Homo sapiens: one gene and its partners. The protein of the gene in region 1 purifies or fractionates together with the protein of each later gene. This does not show direct contact. Each region holds a gene or a part of one and is shown on either strand. Other genes may lie near its edges. The genes, in order: ZIC3, MYH10 and MYO1B.

Region 1 (3,630 bases):
GCGCAAACACATGAAGGTAATTACCTCTTTATTAGCGGTCGGCGGTTTGTAAACACTCGGCCCGACGCCGGGCCGCGGAACGGAAGCGCCCGCGCTGCCAACCCTCTGTCTTCCACGTTAAATCCGATTTGCTCCAGCAGTGACACCTTGAACCCATTTTGGGGACCGGGCGGGGGTGGGGGTGAGGGGGTGGGCGGGAGTGAGCAAAGTTGGGAGGGGGAGGAAGCGGAGGGAACAATCGGTTGTTTACTGGGAAGCTCTAGCCGAGCTCGCCTGGGCTTGCGGGGCTGCCGTGGCCGCCTCTTCCCGACTCAGCCCGCGGTGGGAACCGAGAGTAGCCGCGCCGAACCCGAGGGTGGGTGGTTCATTCGCTCTTTGGCTTCGGATAAAACAATAGGGCCGAGGAGTGCAATCTGATTCCCACACATTTGTCTGCGACTTCGCAGCGCTCAGGGCCCCTGTGCCACCTTCTCTGTACCTGCTTTCTCAAGCCGAAACGGGCTTGGTGAAACCTGGGCCCGGAGTTAGTATTTTATAGGACCTCACAGTGTACTGCTTACCTCACTCCATCCGCGGAGAAAGCATTTTTGAAGTGGCATGACCAAAACGGAATGCTTTATTCCTTTTCCGTAACACCAGTCTTAGGAGCAAAACTGGTTTTTGGCGAACATCTCCGGGTTTTCTAGACATCGGTAATACGGATTTTTTTTAAGCAGCATTTTTCTTTTAAGTGGGTCACTGGGCGGTCTTGTTGTTACAGTGCTCGAATTCTGCTCTTGTTTTTGCTTGCACATTGCCAGTTGGAATTATATTCATTATAATATATACATGTTAATTTTAGGTTCATGAATCTCAAGGGTCAGATTCCTCCCCTGCTGCCAGTTCAGGCTATGAATCTTCCACTCCACCCGCTATAGCTTCTGCAAACAGTAAAGATACCACTAAAACCCCTTCTGCAGTTCAAACTAGCACCAGCCACAACCCTGGACTTCCTCCTAATTTTAACGAATGGTACGTCTGAGGACAAACACAAACCCTGTTAATTATAGAATGGACCAAATACATTTTTAAAAGAAAACTGAGACCAATCAGATGGAAATGGAGTTTTAAGGCAAGAGGCCATATATAGGGCTACATCTTGTTAATTGCAATTGTCCAGGAAGGTTTTGGGCAAGATCCAAAAGTAGCCATGCCCTTTTCTCAGGATAGAAAATATGTTTTGGCATTTGAAGCATTTTTTACAAAATCTTTACACTACTTTTTCTTCCCCTTCCTCTTGCTCTCTGCACACCCCATTCTTAAACTCCTCCAATTCATTTTAACACTTGTCCTGTTTCTTGAGAGGAAGTTATAGAAGGCTTGTTGGTGGTGGTGATGTTAAACTGATGGAAATTCTTTTTCGCCTTAGTGGTGATTGTTTAAACTCTCACAGTCTTAAACCGTGCCAAAGTCCTGTTATGTCTTGAACTTTTCCTCAAAGCATTACACTTGTGAATGTATTTTTGTCTAATAGGGTCGAAACTGTTGTTCAGTATTTTTTCAGGCTGAGGATGTGATGTTACTCTACACATTGTGACGTTTAGTATACAGTTGCCTTTTGTAATAACTTTTTTTTTGTAAATACATATCCATTGATGCCATATTTATCGTTTGTAATTTAATTATTGCTACAAGTGCCGGGAACTGAACAATATTTATGGATAAATGTTTTCTAACAAATTCTGTACAGCTTTTGATTATAACTGCTTTAGCATTAAAAATTGTTTTGAAAGAAGAACACAATTTACAATTTTGGAACCACTGACTCCTTTCTCTTGTTTTGTAACAGCCTTCTTCTACAAAGAGGAGATGTGAGCAAATTAAATCTTGTTTGTTGGTATTTATAACTCACTCAGATCCCTTTTTTAATTGTTAAATTATTTTTCTATTACAGTATAAATTCCTTACAGTGTCAGTTTCCATCTGGGAAGACTCTCCTTTCTTTATCTCTATCTCAGATGGTTGTTTAACTGCGAGTTTAAATGTGTTTGTCCTGGATTTTCGGCATGCAAATCAAATATTACTGATCAATTCAGTTAGTGGCCATGACATCTCAATCTTGTACTTCAAAGACTGAGAAGCTGGATTTAATCATCCCTGCCCTACATATATAAACATAAGGTAACCTACTGAATTTTATGTCCCTTAGTTCTTTATTACCTTACATAAAAATGAAAATTGCGGCAGGATGCATGTCTGTCTGTTCTATCTAGAGATCACCCATATACCTATATATGTTTGTATCTATGACTTATCTAATCTGCCTATCAATCTATCTAGTAGCTATCTATATATTTTCAAAAGATAGCTTATGTCTAAAACAGTGGTGATGAGTAAGGCCAGTTGAGCATTGCTTACTTATGGTTAAAGTGCTTCTTAAAAGAACCATAGTCCATTTACAATTTTGGAAGGCAAAGGCTGATTTGTTTGCTGTATATAGTTCAATTCATAATTATCGCAATTATCCATAACATTTATATAGCGGTGTAATAACTGCAGCAGTTCTGAAATGATGCTATGGGAAAAAAATTGCAAAATATGTATTTTTAAAGTTCATGATTTGTAGGCAAAGATGTTAAGAGCATTGTTTCCATTAAAATCAATAACAATGAAAAACGGTTGTTTGCTTTGTGATAAAATGTTAACAATCCATTTAATCTTCAGTGAAGCAACTCATTTGGACAAACAGTTCTTTTACAGTGGTTATATGGAAAAGAAATTGATTGCTATTTTGGGGGGCTGGAGTGGGTAGAGTATTGAGACCTTTTTTATTAGGGTGCTGTTTGTTATTGAGAGCCCAATCTCTGCATGAATAACAGAAAGGTGGACATAAGGAATTGTAAAGTATTTAGAATGTATTGAATAGGCTTAAGTACCTCCTTTAAGGGGCAATGCTCTAGGTTTTTGGTGGCAGTCAATTTGGTATTATATATGATCATTTTCAATTCTAGAATTTTGTTTATTGTTCTTTTTGAAGAAATAAAGTCTTGGCACATCTTATTTATGTTATAACATTTTTGTATTTGGTGCCTGATTTTTTTTCATGTTCAAATAAATCAATCTAAAATTGAAATGCTTACAGAACTTCTGATGATTAAAAGAAACTTTGATTCTGTGAATGCGGTTGAAGCAGTCTATTTAAGTTATCTACTGATCTTTGTCAACAGACAATTAGTTATTGACAGTTTCTAATTGCAAATTGCTTTGGAGGCTATTTTTTGTTAGTGGAGAATAATGGGGTCTTTTGCATTTTCTTCCACCAATATCCAAGCCTGAATGCCATGAACAGAGATTGGGATGACTACACATGTGATGAGCAGGTAACCTGGTCAGTCTATCACTCCCAACCCAGACATTCCGATCTTGACCTTGACATTGAGGGTGCTGGACCAGATTCCTATTTCAGGCTTTTTCCTTCACCTCAAACCAGAGACCATTTTAAATGCTCAGCAAGTTCTCAGAAAGTATATATTCATAAGACTGGCTCTAAGTGTGTTCCATTGTGAAATCTAAATAGTGTATTTTTCTTCTGAACTGTACAATGAACTTCCATAATTTACCACTTTCTCCATGAGTTCCCTCCCCCACCCT
Region 2 (3,654 bases), on another chromosome or scaffold:
TGCTAGCCCTTTGTGAGCCAATGGTAAATGGGTGCTAAATAAAACAACTAGGTCTTGAGATACATTAATTGTAAATGTCACAGAACCAGTACTTTCCTCAATGTGGCTAAGATAGTTGATGGTTCCTTTTTCTTCTGCACTGGTCAGACCATATCTGGGCTATGATGTTTGCTTCTGGGCCACACACTTTAGAGGGAAGACAAGCAGCATGTTGGAGTCTGTTTAGGCGAGAGATCCGGCAGGGGAAGGAGTCTTGGTGAATGAGGGGTGGAGGAGCTGCAGGATGGGAATAGAGGCCTGAACTGCTACCATGACATATTCAAAAGGCTGCCGTGTGAAGCCAAGTTATGCTTGTCTTTTGTGGTCCCAGTTGATCACATTAAGACCTCATGGGGCCATAGAAAAGCTAGAGGGAGACTGATTTGGGTTATTCATAAGAAGAACTTTAAGTCTGTTATCTGAGGGTAGAATGAGAGGCATGTTTTAGATTCTTTAGATTCTTTACTCTTCTGACAATCATGTGTTTTTGTAGCTGTTTCCTTGTGGTCATATTAATTCTGGTACCACTTCATGAACCTTTTATTACCCATCTTTGTTTTCTTTTTTTTTTTCCCTTCTTAACTCCCTGTTTAATTTGTGGTGAGGGTGAAAGAGGAGATAAAGAAAAAAAAGGGTCAACTTGTAACTTTGCCTTTTCTTTTCTTTTCTTTTCTTTTTTTTGCCCTCAGTAACTGAGGGCAAACCCATCAGACAACCAGAGCCATAATTTGTGGTCACCGCTGAAATTTACCTTGGAAACTCGGTTAGTATGGCTGTGAAGAGGTATACCCCAGCTCCTTAACACAGAGTTAATGCTTAATCTAAGGTTTTAAGTTTCTTAGAAAAGAAAAACGTGTACATTCTTTTGTTTCTTAAACATCTAATTTTGCCCTCCTCCTCTTCTCTTAGAGGCAATTGCTTTTGGATCGTTCCATTTACAATGGCGCAGAGAACTGGACTCGAGGATCCAGAGAGGTATCTCTTTGTGGACAGGGCTGTCATCTACAACCCTGCCACTCAAGCTGATTGGACAGCTAAAAAGCTAGTGTGGATTCCATCAGAACGCCATGGTTTTGAGGCAGCTAGTATCAAAGAAGAACGGGGAGATGAAGTTATGGTGGAGTTGGCAGAGAATGGAAAGAAAGCAATGGTCAACAAAGATGATATTCAGAAGATGAACCCACCTAAGTTTTCCAAGGTGGAGGATATGGCAGAATTGACATGCTTGAATGAAGCTTCCGTTTTACATAATCTGAAGGATCGCTACTATTCAGGACTAATCTATGTAAGTATTTCTTCCAAATAATCATGTGAAGTGGTAGCTAGGAATTAATGTAAATTATACATCTTGTCATAATCAAATGAGAATGTGGAATACCCAAACTCTCTGTTTAACATTTCTATTTCTCTTTAAGATAGAAAGATTTGTTGCTTGCTTACCCATGTCTTGCTTTTCTTTGAATCTTAACACATTAAGTTTAAATAATACAGGCTGCAATTACATATAATAAAATGGCATTTGAAGACTTTTGTAGTGGTCTTCTGGAGCATAATAAGGTGGGAGAGAGCATGTAACAGGAAGACCAGAAGGTTTAATAAGGTAAAGAGAGTTGCATTAATTGGACGCAGACAGCAAAACGGTCAAAAATCAAGTGCATACCCAAGAGTAAAGTGGAGGGGCTGTAAGCTGAGAAATTTCTGTGGACAGCATGAACAGCTTCACTGGATGTAGTAGGGAAGTAGGAAAGATGAATGCTGAGGTTTTTAAGAGGAAACAATTAGGGTAAGATTGAGGCTGGCTGGGGTCGTCCTGTGGTTAGCAGCTGACATGAATGTTGGAGTCACCGACTTTGTCACTGACCATGTAGAAGAAGTTATTGAAAATCATAAGGGATAATGTAGAGAGGGATAATGTAGAGAGGAAAAATGTAAGCCAGATACTAAAAGAAAAATCTAAAATGACAAAATAGGTTTGAGGGAATGGTAGACAGAGGTGGCAATGATTTGAAGAAGGTGGCACGTGTGGGACTTAAACTGACGATGAAGGGAAGTAGGAAGAAAAGTTGATGGTCGTGGTTTGAAATCGGAAAAGGGGTGTTGAATTTTACACAAGGAGTGTGCTACTGAAGGTCATGAATAATTCAAAACTTCAGTAAATCAGAGCTAGTTTTCCTACAGAATTAGTTTAAGGAATATTTATTAAGCACCCCCTGTGCTCTAGGTGCTGGGGATAGTACAGTGAAGAAGACAGGCCAGGTCTCTCTGCCTTTCTGAAATGTCCAATGAGGAAATGAAACAAGGCTATGGAGAGAGTAAGTAGGAGAATGGCTTTCTCCAGCGGGTCAGTTAAGGGCTGTTTGTGAAGGTAGCATTTGAGCTGGAGTCTGACTGGTGGGAGGCAGCTAGCCACGAGAAAAGCTGAGAAAAGAATGATTCATTCATGACCTTTGCCAGAGTAGTTTCAACCAAGCCTGATAGATCTCCCTTATTTTCTTCTCTATGAGGTAGGAGAGTAAGAGGCCACAGGGTTGGAACGGTGGCTTGAGGAGAATGGAAAGGCTTAGGAACAACCCTTTTCCAATTTCAGACTAAGCCAGGGATAAGAAAGCGACTGGAGAGTGGCGTTGAGAGTCCAGCTGAGATTGAATAACCACGTGTAGGGTGACCGCAATTTTGCCTGGCTATGTGATTTTGCCAGACCATGGGATTGTCTCAGGTCTGTGAGTGTGGGGGGCTTTGGATCTGCATGGCTTCCACAGTGAGAGGGGGATTCAGTGGCCGTCTTTGGAGTCCTCGTTCGGTAGGAATGGGAGTCTGGGTGGGAGGGGCTGATGGATCAAGGCCTGGAAGTTTTCAGAATGTTGAGGAACAGGGATCATGGGGTGAAGGAGTGAGAAAACTGCAAAATTAAGAGGTTATGGTCAGATTGTAATGTCGACATGTAAGATTTGAGAGGTTGATCAGTTTCAGATGAAGCCCATTGCAATAAATTGTGCAGGTATGGAAATGTGATGTCACCATCAAAAACTGTGCAGTGTGAAGAGGAGCCAGGCTGCTTTTCTGCCAGCCTTCACCTTAATTTCCCACACTGGCAGCTGGAGGTAGCTGCAAAGGGTGCTAAGTAGAAAAGGAATGAAAGAAAGGACAGGTGTTTTTTTGTTGTTTTTGTTTTTGTTTTGCAGCCATTCCACATAATTCAGAGATTTTACAGTTATCTCTTACTGAGTTTGTTGGATTTTTTTCCAACTTAACTCATGGACAACCTGAGTGAACTTCTGAGTTTCTTTTCAAAGCACAGCCTCCTTCTACAGGAGAATCTGAGTTTTTCTCAAAGTCTCAAGGTCACACAGAGGTCGGGGTTTGGGAGGATCATATCTTCAATTAGTTGGGTGGAGAAAGGGTTCTTACCTAAGGTTCTAGTTGGAGAACTTGACTCCAAAGAAGTCTGTGTCGTTAAGAGGATGGGGATGGGGAGAGCCATGCTAGCATTGTGATAAATATGTATTGGGCTTTGGAATTAACCAGCCAGTTGGGATGATCAGTTGAGGTTCAATAATATAGATACTAGAATAATTTGGGTAGAACCTTTTTTGGACATATTTCTATAGATAAGAT
Region 3 (3,654 bases), on another chromosome or scaffold:
AAACTGTTAACACATTCTTCCTTTGCCTCAAAGAGGATTACTTGAGGACTTTGGTGATTTTCCCCCATGCACCATATTGAGTTTCTACGAGAGCCCCTGCAGCGGCCCAGGCGTTCCCTGTGCGGTCGCCTCTCGGCCCTGGCTGGAACGGGGAGCACAGGGCTGCATTTTCTTTCCATTCCAGGTTCCAGCTGCTCTCAAGTAGTTCAGTTTTTTGTTCATTTGTTTCTCTCTTTGTCTAAAGGAATACTGTAGGACAGAGAAATCATAAAATTTGGACACCTTCAGGCAACATAGTTAAATCCTGCAAATTGAAGAGTTTACTTTATCAGATGTACAGAACAGATAATCAGATAATACATGTGAACACACACACTTTGATGGGTGGGAAAAAAGGCTTTTTCCTGTCCCTAAAGATAGTAACACATTCTCTATCTAAATTACAGGGAAGCTGGAAATCTGTTTTATACTGCCTTTTATTTTAGCTCTCTTATTTTGTATAAGAGGACATGGCATGTAATTTAGATGTTGCCCAGCATGGAACACGTGGGGCACTTGTATAGATGTTGACCTTACTTCGATAACCTAGTCAGTTGATATGTGGAATGTTAAATATATGCAGTTATCAGATGTAATAAAATCATGAGATGGAAGGGCATGTATTTAGTAAATGAATGCTCAGTACACACATCCTCCAGGAAACTTTCCTGCCCAGCACGGTGGGCTTGTTTTTTTGTTAGAATCATCTATGTATAGAGTGACATTATTGCTGATTAGCTTGATAAGTGGTACCATACAACATAAGGAACTAGATTCTGAGTTCTGTTCTCTAACAGCAAATTTGGCGAGGTTCATGAACCTCTTAATGGCTTGTCTCCTTTCTTGAGTCTAACCCAGAAACTGTTTTCAGAAATAATGACAGGGAGCTCCCATTGCTGGGGATCTGCACCACCTCTGCCCTCCCCTGGCTTTGCAATCTCACCCATCCCTCCATTGGATTGGAGGTGGGAGATGAGGGCTGTTTATTCCTGAAGGGAGCCTTTCCATGGAAAGGGTCAGCAGCAATGCTCACACTTCTTCATGCAATTATTTCAGTAGCACTTGACCACACCTGTAACTGAATTTCTAGGAATGCTCATCTAAAAAACCTGGCCCTGCTCCTCTGGCCACTGTCTCCTCTCATTGCAGCTTCAGGGATGGAGTGAAAGGGGATATCTCAGGTCCCTCATCCCTATTGTAAAATGGTAGTGGGGGGATTTGGAGCAGTGGTTTTCAAACTGTCATAGCATATTTGTGGTCATGAAATCAATTTAGTGGATTACTACCAGCGTTTTTCAATAAAATGCAATAGAATAGAAAATAGCAGAGTGTACAATATATAGAAAGGATTGAGTATTGTTTTGTGACGCTTTTGTGTCAGTTTTCTCTGTATGTGTGTGGAAATGTGCTTAGTGGATTGTGATGCACAATATTTTTACTGTGAGTCTCTCTAGAAGAGTGACAGCCTCAGGACTAGAGGATTTCCAAGGATTGACATAGTGGGAGGAAATAGTACTTGCAAGGCCCGTGCCCACTAGGCCCTGGTGTGTTTTGAAGAAGCATTCCAGGTTCTGCAATACAAATAATACTCTGACGTTTTCCAAGACAAACTTTTTAAAACCCACAAGGGAAAAATGTTTTTGGCCTTTTTTAGTGAATGTTTTGTACTTTCTCCCTTATTCTTGTTGCTGATAAATTGTCTTAGCATATTTAAGAATGAGTAATAATTTATTTATATAAATGATGTTTTGTTTCTTTCTTCTCATATCTCACAGTGTAAAAAATACAGGGACCAATTCACAGACCAGCAGAAACTTATTTATGAAGAGAAACTAGAAGCCAGTGAACTCTTCAAAGACAAGAAGGCTTTATACCCATCTAGGTATTATGGCTTTGCTTTACCCATAAAATTCAGGATTATAAAAGTTTCTCAAGTATATTTGTACGCCGTTTTGCCTGGTGTTTGATTTCAGTCTTAGATGAGTGATTTTTAGTTCTGTGAATCATTTTATAATCAGCTTGATGTAAACACATTTATTTGAGCTATGGCTTCTATAGTGCAGTTTAATGAAATGAGGTTACGATTGTTGGTTTCACTCCATTAGCATTAGCTCAAACACTTTACTAAATAATTAGAAGTCATTTAACATAAAAATTATATAGGCTGTTAAGATACGTTTGCATTGTAAATTCCTGTTCCTTTTCCGTAGTTTTCAAAGACTAGCCAAATTTCTGTTGGCAATATACTTTAATCACCATTCCAGTCTTCCTGCCATAGCAAGCAAGGTCAGAAACTTATTTGTAAGGTAAATGAAAGAGCGAGCCAGGACAGTACTTTTTGAGTGTTGCTTGAGCACTGGTCTGTGGTGCCCTTTGGTCTGCTAACTCAACGGATATGACTTCTGTGGCCTGTACAGCACGTTCAGTTCCTTTATTTTAGACACCGTGGACTCAGAAAAAGAAGGAACACCAATCCCAAGTTCAGCAAGTGAAGTCCTTGGTAAAGACTGTTTATCCCAATAGTCTTACATCTCCTGCATTCATCACTTCCTCCCAGCAATCTAATCCCATTTTCATCTGGTGTTTATAAAAAAGTAGATTGTACAATTTCAAGCCAAATCTGTAACAACTTTAAGCTTCTTCCAATGAATGGCCAAAGAAAGAATGTATTATATGCTGAGTATATTCACATTTATTACGTAAATTATGTTTATATTCTCTGTGACTTTATACACATTTAAAATATCTTCCTTTTAAAGGATTAAAGGAATATACATTGCCAGACTCACTGGGTTTAAATATTTTAAATTGTACAACTTCATTGGTTAGCTGATGTGGCTACTTGAGGTGATACATACTCCCTTAAGTCAAACACAGTGTCTAAATCCAAAGTTGTCCAAAGTGCCTGTTATATAAAGCATATTCAAACAGGAGAATTTGTCTGTATGCTTGCTTCAGCAACTAATTTTATTCAGCTTTTTTTTTATACATTTTTAAATTAGGGAATAACCTTCTTAATGAACATTTCCTGTGGATGACTCTTCAGAAACTACAGGCTGGAAAATACATCTTTGAGGAAACAATTTAAAAGCCTGTTAGCATTTTTATAATTTAAAACACAGTTGAATAGGAACCAAAAAAAGTTAACTTCAAGCCAAGTCCTTTTTGGGTAGTCTTATCAGTTTTCAGGGATAGTGGCACACTCACCCCACAGCAGTGAGAGAGGTGGAATAATTTAGCCTCCCACCACCCTGCAAAGTGGCAGCTCTTATGGGAGTTGGCCTTTTATATCCTGAGAGCTGTGAAACGCTGACCACCTACGTGGATTTTTCTTCCCTTATCCTCCACCCACAACATAAGCATTTAAATTTGTATTTGCAAATTGCCAGAACTTTGTAGCTCAAAATGAAGCTTATAGATTCCTTGAAGCAGCAGTTTTTCCTTGGTGCCTTTGATGAACCTGTCCTGAAAGAGTCCCCCGACAAGTCTTTAGGGAAATTGATATCTTAGTGATAAGTGTACAGTTAACCTTTTACAAAAATTAGTTTGTTTGGGAAAAAAAAAATTGCCCTGATTCTGAATGTTTGCTTTGGTTACTTCTGTCCATTTAGAGGC

What was found.
Region 2: the proteins of ZIC3 (region 1) and MYH10 purify together in Homo sapiens (affinity purification with mass spectrometry; one large-scale study listed by BioGRID and IntAct). This does not show direct contact.
Region 3: the proteins of ZIC3 (region 1) and MYO1B purify together in Homo sapiens (affinity purification with mass spectrometry; one large-scale study listed by BioGRID and IntAct). This does not show direct contact.

The regions. Positions count from the first base shown.
Region 1 is NC_000023.11:137,569,050-137,572,679, forward strand, and holds the end of ZIC3 (zinc finger protein ZIC 3), read left to right. Parts: coding exon 1-16; intron 17-841; coding exon 842-1,021; 3' UTR 1,022-3,053; downstream 3,054-3,630. UniProt on the Homo sapiens protein: Acts as a transcriptional activator. Required in the earliest stages in both axial midline development and left-right (LR) asymmetry specification. Binds to the minimal GLI-consensus sequence 5'-GGGTGGTC-3'.
Region 2 is NC_000017.11:8,620,572-8,624,225, reverse strand, and holds part of MYH10 (myosin-10), read left to right. Parts: intron 1-948; 5' UTR 949-979; coding exon 980-1,324; intron 1,325-3,654. UniProt on the Homo sapiens protein: Cellular myosin that appears to play a role in cytokinesis, cell shape, and specialized functions such as secretion and capping. Involved with LARP6 in the stabilization of type I collagen mRNAs for CO1A1 and CO1A2.
Region 3 is NC_000002.12:191,409,252-191,412,905, forward strand, and holds part of MYO1B (unconventional myosin-Ib), read left to right. Parts: intron 1-1,814; coding exon 1,815-1,921; intron 1,922-3,654. UniProt on the Homo sapiens protein: Motor protein that may participate in process critical to neuronal development and function such as cell migration, neurite outgrowth and vesicular transport.